Linked DNA regions of Homo sapiens. The protein of the gene in region 3 purifies or fractionates together with the protein of the main gene of each other region. This does not show direct contact. Each region holds a gene or a part of one and is shown on either strand. Other genes may lie near its edges. The genes, in order: CASC3, SRSF12 and GSPT2.

Evidence for each region.
Region 1: the proteins of GSPT2 (region 3) and CASC3 purify together in Homo sapiens (affinity purification with mass spectrometry; 2 studies listed by BioGRID and IntAct, with this or other methods). This does not show direct contact.
Region 2: the proteins of GSPT2 (region 3) and SRSF12 purify together in Homo sapiens (affinity purification with mass spectrometry; 2 studies listed by BioGRID and IntAct, with this or other methods). This does not show direct contact.

Annotation. Positions count from the first base shown.
Region 1 is NC_000017.11:40,146,942-40,150,592, reverse strand, and holds part of CASC3 (protein CASC3), read right to left. Parts: intron 1-3,651. UniProt on the Homo sapiens protein: Required for pre-mRNA splicing as component of the spliceosome. Core component of the splicing-dependent multiprotein exon junction complex (EJC) deposited at splice junctions on mRNAs.
Region 2 is NC_000006.12:89,108,035-89,111,685, forward strand, and holds part of SRSF12 (serine/arginine-rich splicing factor 12), read right to left. Parts: intron 1-3,651. UniProt on the Homo sapiens protein: Splicing factor that seems to antagonize SR proteins in pre-mRNA splicing regulation.
Region 3 is NC_000023.11:51,741,883-51,745,633, forward strand, and holds the start of GSPT2 (eukaryotic peptide chain release factor GTP-binding subunit ERF3B), read left to right. Parts: upstream 1-1,559; 5' UTR 1,560-1,744; coding exon 1,745-3,631; 3' UTR 3,632-3,751. UniProt on the Homo sapiens protein: GTPase component of the eRF1-eRF3-GTP ternary complex, a ternary complex that mediates translation termination in response to the termination codons UAA, UAG and UGA.

The DNA.
Region 1 (3,651 bases), on a different chromosome or scaffold from region 3:
TCTCTCTAGACTCCATAGCTCATTCATTTCAATCACTACTAGTAACATCCCATTTCTCTTGCCACTCCCATATGCCTGGAACTGGATCAATTCAAATGTCTGCTTTCTCCAGGCCTACAACAGACTACTCCATTGCCAAAGGGGGTTACACACACACACACACACACACACACACACGCACACACTCTTACTTTTTGAAGCAGATGTCATTCTTTTGTTTTTTTCGAGAGTCTCACACTGTTACCCAGGGTGGAGTGCAGTGGTGCAATCATAGCTTGCTGTGGCCTCGACCTCCTGGGCTCAAGGGATCCTCCCACTCCAAGCTCCCAAGTAGCTGGGACATAAGCACACATCACTGCGCCAGGTTGATTTTTTGTAGAGAGAGGGTCTCACTTTGTTGCCCAGATTGGTCTCAAATTCCTGGGCTCAAGCAATCCTCCTGCCTTGGCCTCCCAAAGTGCTTGGATTACAGGTGTGAGCCACCGTGCCTGTCCTGCTCTATCCTTCTATTTCACAAAAACAAAACACAGAAAGGAACGCTAACTTCCTTTCCTTCCCACTTCTTTGTAATTACAATGGAAGATACTTCTCATCTGGTTCCTACATCTTCTCATGTACTTAGTCAAGAATACCAGTACTTAATATTATTATCTATTCCCTCTTTTTTTTCCCTTTTTTTTGAGACGGAGTCTCGCTCTGTCGCCCAGGCTCAAGTGCCCGCCACCATGCCCGGCTAATTTTTTGTATTTTTAGTAGAGACGGGGTTTCACCATGTTAGCCAGGATGGTCTCGATCTCCTGACCTCGTGATCTGCCCGCCTCGGCCTCCCAAAGTGCCGGGATTACAGGCGTGAGCCACCGCACCCAGCTTTTCCCTCCTTTCTAATCTTCCTTTGCACATACCTTTCCTTCCCACTTCTCTGTAATTACAATGGAAGATGTTAATCTTGTCTGGTTCCTACTTTTTCTCATATACTCAGTCAAAAATACCAGTACTCAATATCATTATCTATTCCCTCTCTTTTTTCCCCCTTTCTTTTCTTTTTTTCAATCTTTGACCTTATTTGATACTCTCCTAACTTTTTAAAAAACATCCAAATCACCTCTTGATCTCAAAGCTACCTCTCCAACTACCATCTCTTCAGCCTTCCCTCAGTCAAATTTCTTTAACAAGTTTTTTTGGCCAGGCACAGTGGCATGAACCTATTGTCTCAGCTATTCAAGAGGCTGATGAGGATTGTAAGTTCAAGTTCAAGCTCAGCTTGGGCAAAATAAGGAGACCCATTTGCCAAAAAAAAAAAAAAAAGAATTCTTGGAAGACTCTCAGAAAATGGCAGTGGCACAGTTTTATCTCTCTTCAAATCTCCACATGGAATGAGAGCTCTGGACAGCAAAACCGAGACCCAAACCAAAACCCTGGCCAGACACAGTGGCTCACGTCCATAATCCCAACACTTTGGGAAGCCGAGGTGGGTGGATCACCTGAGACCAGGAGTTCGAGACCAGCCTGGCCAACATGGTAAAACCGCGTCTCTACTAAAAATGCAAAAATTAGCCAGGCATGGTGGCACGCACCTGTAATCCCAGCTACGCAGGAGGCTGAGGCACAAGAATAGCTTGAATCTGGAAGGCAAAGCCACTGCACTCCAGCCTGGGCGACAGCAAGACTCTGTCTCAAAAAATAAAAAAGAAACCAAAACCTTCAGACAACACTGCAACAAAGTTAAGTTACCAGGTATCCCCCAAGACCCAAAATGTAAGTGCATAACAAAGCACCAACAGCTGTAGGACCTGTATAGTACTGGTGTCCACGCAGGAGAAAGCAGAGAGAAAGCAAATGGACCTGAGAACAGGAGAACACTGAAATAATCAACAGGCAGTCAAGGGAAAGCACAACAGTCAAAACTGAGAACAGCACTTACAACTAGCAAGGGGGCCACACACGGTGGCTCATGCCTGTAATCCCATCACTTTGGGAGGCCAAGGTGGGTGGATCATCTGAGTCAGGAGTTCGAGACCAGCCTGGAAAACATGGTGAAACCTCATCTCTACTAAAAATACAAAAATTAGCTGGGCACGGTGACACACGAGGTCCCAGCTACTCAGGAGGCTAAGGCAGGAGAATCGCTTGAACCCAGGAGACGGAGATTGCAGTTAGCTGAGATTGCGCCACTGCACTCCAGTCTGGGCGACAGAGTGAGACTCTGTCTTAAAAAAAAAAAAGGTCTGAAGGGATGAAGCTGACCTGGCTGCCAGGGCTTCCTTCTGGGGACAGGGCCCTACACTGTCCCTAGAAGGGAGTTCCTAGAAGAGAAACTGTTGAGAGCAGGACCAAATTCAGTAGGACAGGGATGGTCCAGAACAAGCTGGGAAAGGGAACAAAAGCAACAAATCTCAGAAAGCAAGCCACCATATTTCTCACCACCACAGAAAAACAACAGAAGCAGCTCTGTGAAGTTAGAAAAAGCTATTCTAAATCATGCTTCCTTCGAAAAGACCAGGAAAACTAATTTTACATAAAAATGAACAGAAAATACAGAAGTTAAATCCCATAAAGTTATAATAAGAAAAAATAATAGCATTCCTACAGACAATGAAAGCATGCCAGAAAGACATCCGCATATCATATCAAAATTGCAACTTCTATTTCAAAATAAGCTAAAAAGACATTAAGAAAATTATATAAGGCATGAAAGAACATCAATCAGAATTGGAAAAACTCAAAAATGAAATGAGAACTCAGAAAGGTATGAGCAATTAGGAATCAAAAACTATTTACCAGGTATCACCACCTAAAAGTCCCACACCTTCTCGATCTCAAAACATCCAAAACCTAACCCACAACTGTCCTTCCAGAACTCTTCTCCTGGGGTCCCTTCCTTAACAGTTAACACCATTCAACACCATTCATCAACCTGCACATTCCTTTGACTCCTTTTTCTTTTTCTGAGTCAGGGTCTCACTTTGTTGTCCAGGCTGGAGTGCTGTGGAGTGATCACAGCTCTACTGCTTTGACCTCCCTGGGCTTAGATGATCCTCCTGCCTGAACCTCCTCAGTAGCTGGGACCACAGGCCTGCGCCACCAAGACCGGATAATTTTTTTTTCTACTTTTCTTTTGTAGAGACAGGATTTTTCCATGTTGCCCAGGTGGGTCTCAGGCTCCTGGGCTCAAGCAATCCACCTGCCTCAGCCTCCCAAAATGCTGTGATTACAGGCATGAGCCAAGGTACCTGGCCTCCTTTGACTCCTTAATTTAGGTTCCACATTCAATCAATGAAGGGGTTGTTAGTACACTAGAATCTCTCTCTAATCTGTCCCACATCTTGCCATTCCAACAAGTATGAACCTTCTTTAGGGGCACCATCGTCATGCTCCTTGGACTATCCTAACAACCTCTAAACAGCTCTTCTGCCTCTAGTCTTCCTTTGTGCCTCACCCACAATTCATCCCCCACATTTAAGCCTTCAGTGGTACTTCTTTCCTAGCCATTAGGAAAACATCCAAACTCCCTTACATATAGAATGGTAAGCTGCTATAAATTCACAATCCCCAAAACTCAATGAACACTCCATATTGCCTGTCAGTTTCTCCAACGTTTCCATTCTCTAGTGACTACAGACGGTCCCTGATGTATGATGGTTCAACTTATAA
Region 2 (3,651 bases), on a different chromosome or scaffold from region 3:
ATTATTTATCAGGCTTTAAAGAAAAATGGATGTTTTAATATTAAACATAAAACAAAGTAACTACTGTATTCCCAAATCTGACAGGTATTTCGAGCCTGCTTATGTGCCTTCTAGTGCGATTAGGTGCTTCAGAAGGGGTACCAAAAAAAAGAAACAGCATGATATTCATCTTCATGGAGCTACAATTTAACTGAAGAGACAAAATATTTAGCAATAATAGCTAACAGTTACAGTGCATTTATATGTTAGCCAGTGTTCACCTTACAACCACTTAATTCTTACAATTTCCCTGTGGTTATTTACAGATGATACAGACAGATTATGGGTGATACAGACAGAATTTCAGGTTATTTACAGGTAATACAGGCAGATTACAGGTGATACAGACAGAGTAACCTATCTAAGCTCACTGAGCCAGCAAGTGACAAAGCTAGAAATCAAATTTTCAGTCTCATACTGGTCCATCTTAACCACTACACCCTACTGCTTCATGGTGCTATCATAGGGATTCAGCATCAAGCTATGATCATAAAATGTGGCTCGGGAGAAATAAAGATTCAAAGATGACTAAGAAGCTTCTAGCTTGGACAAATGGAAAAAAGATGGTGTCAGTGACAAAAATTAGAAGAGAGCTAGATCAAGGAGGAAGAAAAGAGGCAAAAGAAGCAACTTTCAGGTTTAGAAATGCAGTATTTGAGGTGATGGTAGAACACTGATAAGAGTTCTATAAGCAACAGAAAATTGTGATTATATGCATATTAATTAGTGTGTATTAATATAATTATTAGAAGCCAGTGACTAAGGCTAGAGATGGGGATTTAGAAATTACATATAAGATTCAACAAAAATTGACTAAGCATCTACTTTTTGCCAGTAGCTCAGTCAACATTATGACATACTTTATTTCATTTAACACTCATAGAACATGTTTTACTATTAGTTTCTGAGGACAGTGACAATGTCTTTTTTCTTTTACTTATTCAGAATTAAGCAAATACTTATTGAGCACCTACCATGTGCCAGGCTCTAGGAATATAATGAGAAACAAGAAAAACACAATTCCTGCTCCCACAGACCATAGACTGGCATAAAGATTCTCAACCTCTCCTGAGTACTGTAATCATCTGTGAAGGGATGTTACAGACAGAGGCACCCCAACCCGATGCATTAATTCTGGACCTAATTAGTGTTTTCCATAGTGAGGCCCAGTTATGTTTAATTTTTTCAGGACTTCACAGGCAATTCTGAGACTGAAGGTTAAGAATCACTGCTAAAGCAGGTGTCTTCACCAGCATATCTCTGTACCTAATGTAGCTGCTGGGCACACAGTAGGTACTCAATATATATTTGCCTATCAATGAAAAAAGAATACATTACTGTTACCATTTAAGAGTTAAGGAGACTGAGGGTGAGAGAAGTTACCTTGCCCAGAGATCTACACAGCCAGTAGTAGAGCTAGGATTCAAATGAAGGTCTTCTGAGACAACCAATCCCATCAACCAAATGTAGTGGCTAAGAGGAAAGGGATCATAGATAATATAAAAGAGGAGGCTGCAGCACTGTGTGCCACAGAGGTCTGGAGTCTGGAAGCCAAGGGTGATGGGAGTCAGATGGAACAGGTCTTTTCAAAAGAGCCAATTCCCATTCACTGTCTCCACTCCCTCACCTGTTAGCTGTTGTTTTATTTTTGCACTTTTGGTATGATCTACTTCAATATTCAAAAAAGTACAGAGAATAATAAACACCCATGTATCTACCAACAAGATTTATTTTCTGGCCGGGCGCGGTGGCTCACGCTTGTAATCCCAGCACTTTGGGAGGCCGAGGTGGGCGGATTACGAGGTCAGGAGATCGAGACCATCTTGGCTAAGAGGGTGAAACCCCATCTCTACTAAAAATACAAAAAATTAACTGGGCGTGGTGGCGGGCGCCTGTAGTCCCAGCTACTCAGGAGGCTGAGGCAGGAGAATGGTGTGAACCCAGGAGGCGGAGCTTGCAGTGAGCCAAGATCATGCCACTGCACTCCAGCCTGGGCAACAGAGCAAGACTCTGTCTCAAAAAAAAAAAATTATTTTCTCCGTATTTGACATACTTGCCATAATTTTCAGTATTTTTAAAGAAATATTATATCCTTCTGTTACCAATGGAGGGTCTTGCCTATGAGTCCTCCAGGTTCTTGGCATTTTTAACAAAGAATTGGACAAAATGCACAAAGCAATGAAAAAATGAAGCAATGAAAGCACAGATTTATTGAAATGAAAAGATACTCCACAGAGTGGGAGCAGGCTCAAGCAAGCCACTCAAGTGCATTGGTTACAGAATTTTCTAGGGTTTAAATACCCTCTAAGGTTTCCCACTGGTTACTCGGTTACACCCTATGTAAATGAAGACTTGGCCCACCACCAGTCTGGTGGAGGGAGGCGACCAATTAGAGGCTGAAGCAAAGCTACAAAGTTACACATGAAGACTTGGCCTGGGACCAGTCTGATTGGTTGTAGGAGGGGACCAGTCAGAGGTACTTTCCATTTTTTATCTGTAATACAGTGCAAAGGGAGTAGCCTCTGATCCTTTTGTTACTTGGGTGTAGAGAGGTGGAGTTCTCCTTTTGATTCAGTTCTAGGAAGTCACTGTGAATCGGCCTTAGGTTCCCTGCCTCCAGACCCTATTCTCCTGCTTCAGTATCACTAGCAAAGAAATTGGTAGGCTGGAGGGTATGCCTACCTTAGCTTCACTACATGTTCTTCAGAGTGGCCCAACCAACTTACATTTCCAAAAACATGTGTTAGAATTCCCACTGTTGCCCAGGCATGGTGGCTGATACCTGCAATACCAGCAGTTTGGGAGGCCAAGGTGGGAGGACTACTTGAGCCCAGGAGTTCAAGATCAGCCTGAGCAACATAGTGAGACCCCCATCTCTACAAAAAATAAAAAAAAATTAGCTGGGCGTGGTGTCTATAATCCCAGCTACTTAGGAGGCTGAGGAAGAAGAATCACTTGAGCCCAGGAGTTTGAGACTGCACTGAGCTATGATCATGCTACTGCACTCCAGTCTGGGAAGACAGGGTGAGACTTGTCTTTTTTTTTTTTTTTTGGAGATGGAATCTTGCTTTGTCACCCAGACTGGAGTACTGTGGCACAATCTCGGGTCACTGCAGCCTCCACTTCCCAGGTTCAAGCTATTCTCGTGCCTCAACCTCCCAAGTAGCTGGGATTACAGGCATGTGCCAGCACACCTTGTTTATTCTATTATTAGTAGAGATGGGGTTTTGTTATGCTAGCTTTTAAAATTCCTCTTGAAAATATGTTGTAGTTTTTGGTGCAAAGGTTCTGCACATTTTTTGTTAACTGTTTTCCTAAGTAAGTATGCCTTTTGATGCTATGGTAAATGCAACTGTTTTTTAAAATTGTCATTGTTTTCAATTGTTTGCTGTTAATATATAGAAATAAAGTTTTTGTAAATTTACCTTATATCCTCATAACTTACTAAACTTATTAGTTCTAGCAGTTTTTTTGTTCATTCCCTAGTATTTTCTATGTAAGCAAATATGTCACCTAAGAATGGTTACTTTTATCTTTCCAATTTTTGTATTTTATATCTTTTTTCTTGCCTTGTTGCACTGGTTAGGACCTGCAATAAAACGTTGGCGGTTG
Region 3 (3,751 bases):
ATCCAACTATGAGGCCAGGCGTGGTGGCTCATGCCTGTAATCCCAGCACTTTGGGAGGCCGAGGCAGGTGGATCACCTGAGGTCAGGAGTTCAAGACCAGTCTGGCCAACATGGTGAAACCCTGTCTCTACTAAAAATATATATTAAGAAAAATTAGCTGAGCTTGGTGGCGGACGCCTGTAATCCCAGCTACTCAGGAAGCTGAGGCAGGAGAATTGCTTGAACCCAGGAGGCAGAAGTTGCAGTGAGCTGAGATCATGCCACTGCACTCCAGCCTGGGCAACAAAAGTGAAACTTTGTCTCAAAATAAAAAAATAAATCCATCTATGTGACACCATCTTGTACTAAGCAGATTGTTTGGACTGAATAGTCTTTCTAGGTATGTCACAAAACCTGAATTCATAAAAGCAAAAGGTGACAGATTTGAGTACATGAAGACTAAAAACAGATTCAGAGAATAAGTTTGTATTTTCTATGTCAGTTTGCACTAAATTAATTTACAAACAAGGTCGCTGAGGCTTTGACTCAACTGTTAACACTTTCTGAGAGTGAGATTCTTTTGATTAGGGTCTTAAGGTCTTTGTTCATCTCAGAAGTCTTAATTGGTTTAATTAGGCTGACACCTACAGCCCTGTCTCATTACCATAAACTGTAGAGGGGTTCAACATGACACTGATTGTTTCTTAGAGCAAAGCCAGTGCAGTGAGTAGGATTCCAGGCCCCCCGGAATGAAGCAGGAAAACCCGAGGCCTGTGGATGCAGGATGTACTAGGGAGGTGCTGGGGAGTAGTGCAGATAAACCCAGAATTCAGTTGGTTGGTAAAACAAGAGTGATCTGAGTCCTGTGCTTGTCTACGTGATCCACCATTGAATGGCAGGCCAGCCATTGTGCAGGCATCTGCATATGAAGTGACTGGAAGCTTCACTGGAACAAGGATCTCCTTGGAAATTCTCTCCCCTCAGACAGCCAGGGTGCTTAACATGAAAAGAAGTTGTAACCCTATCCTTAAACTATAGAAGCCATCAGCAGAAGTTACAGGCTTATGGGGGCCCACTGGAAAGGGAAAATCAAAAGGCCTGTGGATTTCAAATTAATGAGTGATCTTAAGTTGCATTTCCTAAGTTCGGCTACAGACTCATATATTTCATGAGTCCCTCCCTACCCATTCCTTGCCTCTCCCTTCAGTTGCTGGGTTTCTGAATTTCTGTATAGTTAACCCTTATCTTGCCTCCCATTTGTTCAATAGAAATGATCACTTTTACTTGAATCTTTTGGTAGAATTGTATACCATGTGTTCCTGTCTAGGTTTAATCATCAGATTGTGGTCAAATTGCTCTGCCAGACTGTGTGAACAAAAAAGTGAATGGAAATTTTCGTTTTAAAAAATAATACTTTTGGACTTAGCCCGTGGCTAAGAAGAAGTAAGGAAGCCAAGCGTACGGATAGCAGCGAGGGGTCAATCCACGCCCGGCGTTGGGTCGGGGGTGGAGGAGTCGGAAGTGGTTGGGGTTTGGGGGAGGAGATCCGCTCACACACAAGAGGAGAGTGTTGAGCCGCCATATCTGCTGCTGCCGCCGCAGTTGCGAATGCAGCATCGGCGCTTAGCTGCCTCCGCGGTGCAGCTAAGGTTCGTGTCGCTACCCCTTGGCCCTTCGCTCTTGCTGCCTTAACCCCGCCGGCGGAGCCCGCTCTTCTGGCCTGTTGAGCCCGCTCCCTCACTGCCACACAGCAAGTTCCGAGACCATGGATTCGGGCAGCAGCAGCAGCGACTCGGCGCCCGATTGCTGGGACCAGGTGGACATGGAATCCCCGGGGTCGGCCCCGAGCGGGGATGGAGTCTCCTCTGCGGTGGCCGAGGCCCAGCGCGAGCCCCTCAGCTCGGCTTTCAGCCGTAAGCTCAACGTCAACGCCAAGCCCTTCGTGCCTAACGTACACGCCGCGGAGTTCGTGCCGTCCTTCCTGCGGGGCCCGACTCAGCCGCCCACCCTCCCGGCCGGCTCCGGCAGCAACGATGAAACCTGCACCGGCGCGGGATACCCTCAAGGTAAAAGGATGGGACGGGGGGCACCTGTGGAACCTTCCCGAGAGGAACCGTTAGTGTCGCTTGAAGGTTCCAATTCAGCCGTTACCATGGAACTTTCAGAACCTGTTGTAGAAAATGGAGAGGTGGAAATGGCCCTAGAAGAATCATGGGAGCACAGTAAAGAAGTAAGTGAAGCCGAGCCTGGGGGTGGTTCCTCGGGAGATTCAGGGCCCCCAGAAGAAAGTGGCCAGGAAATGATGGAGGAAAAAGAGGAAATAAGAAAATCCAAATCTGTGATCGTACCCTCAGGTGCACCTAAGAAAGAACACGTAAATGTAGTATTCATTGGCCATGTAGACGCTGGCAAGTCAACCATCGGAGGACAGATAATGTTTTTGACTGGAATGGTTGACAAAAGAACACTGGAGAAATATGAAAGAGAAGCTAAGGAAAAAAACAGAGAAACCTGGTATTTGTCCTGGGCCTTAGATACAAATCAGGAGGAACGAGACAAGGGTAAAACAGTCGAAGTGGGTCGTGCCTATTTTGAAACAGAAAGGAAACATTTCACAATTTTAGATGCCCCTGGCCACAAGAGTTTTGTCCCAAATATGATTGGTGGTGCTTCTCAAGCTGATTTGGCTGTGCTGGTCATCTCTGCCAGGAAAGGAGAGTTTGAAACTGGATTTGAAAAAGGTGGACAGACAAGAGAACATGCGATGTTGGCAAAAACGGCAGGGGTAAAACATTTAATAGTGCTTATTAATAAGATGGATGATCCCACAGTAAATTGGAGCATCGAGAGATATGAAGAATGTAAAGAAAAACTGGTGCCCTTTTTGAAAAAAGTAGGCTTCAGTCCAAAAAAGGACATTCACTTTATGCCCTGCTCAGGACTGACCGGAGCAAATATTAAAGAGCAGTCAGATTTCTGCCCTTGGTACACTGGATTACCATTTATTCCGTATTTGGATAACTTGCCAAACTTCAACAGATCAATTGATGGACCAATAAGACTGCCAATTGTGGATAAGTACAAAGATATGGGCACTGTGGTCCTGGGAAAGCTGGAATCCGGGTCCATTTTTAAAGGCCAGCAGCTCGTGATGATGCCAAACAAGCACAATGTAGAAGTTCTTGGAATACTTTCTGATGATACTGAAACTGATTTTGTAGCCCCAGGTGAAAACCTCAAAATCAGACTGAAGGGAATTGAAGAAGAAGAGATTCTTCCAGGATTCATACTTTGTGATCCTAGTAACCTCTGCCATTCTGGACGCACGTTTGATGTTCAGATAGTGATTATTGAGCACAAATCCATCATCTGCCCAGGTTATAATGCGGTGCTGCACATTCATACTTGTATTGAGGAAGTTGAGATAACAGCGTTAATCTCCTTGGTAGACAAAAAATCAGGAGAAAAAAGTAAGACACGACCCCGCTTCGTGAAACAAGATCAAGTATGCATTGCTCGTTTAAGGACAGCAGGAACCATCTGCCTCGAGACGTTCAAAGATTTTCCTCAGATGGGTCGTTTTACTTTAAGAGATGAGGGTAAGACCATTGCAATTGGAAAAGTTCTGAAATTGGTCCCAGAGAAGGACTAAGCAATTTTCTTGATGCCTCTGCAAGATACTGTGAGGAGAATTGACAGCAAAAGTTCACCACCTACTCTTATTTACTGCCCATTGATTGACTTTTCTTCATATTTTGCAAAGAGAAATTTC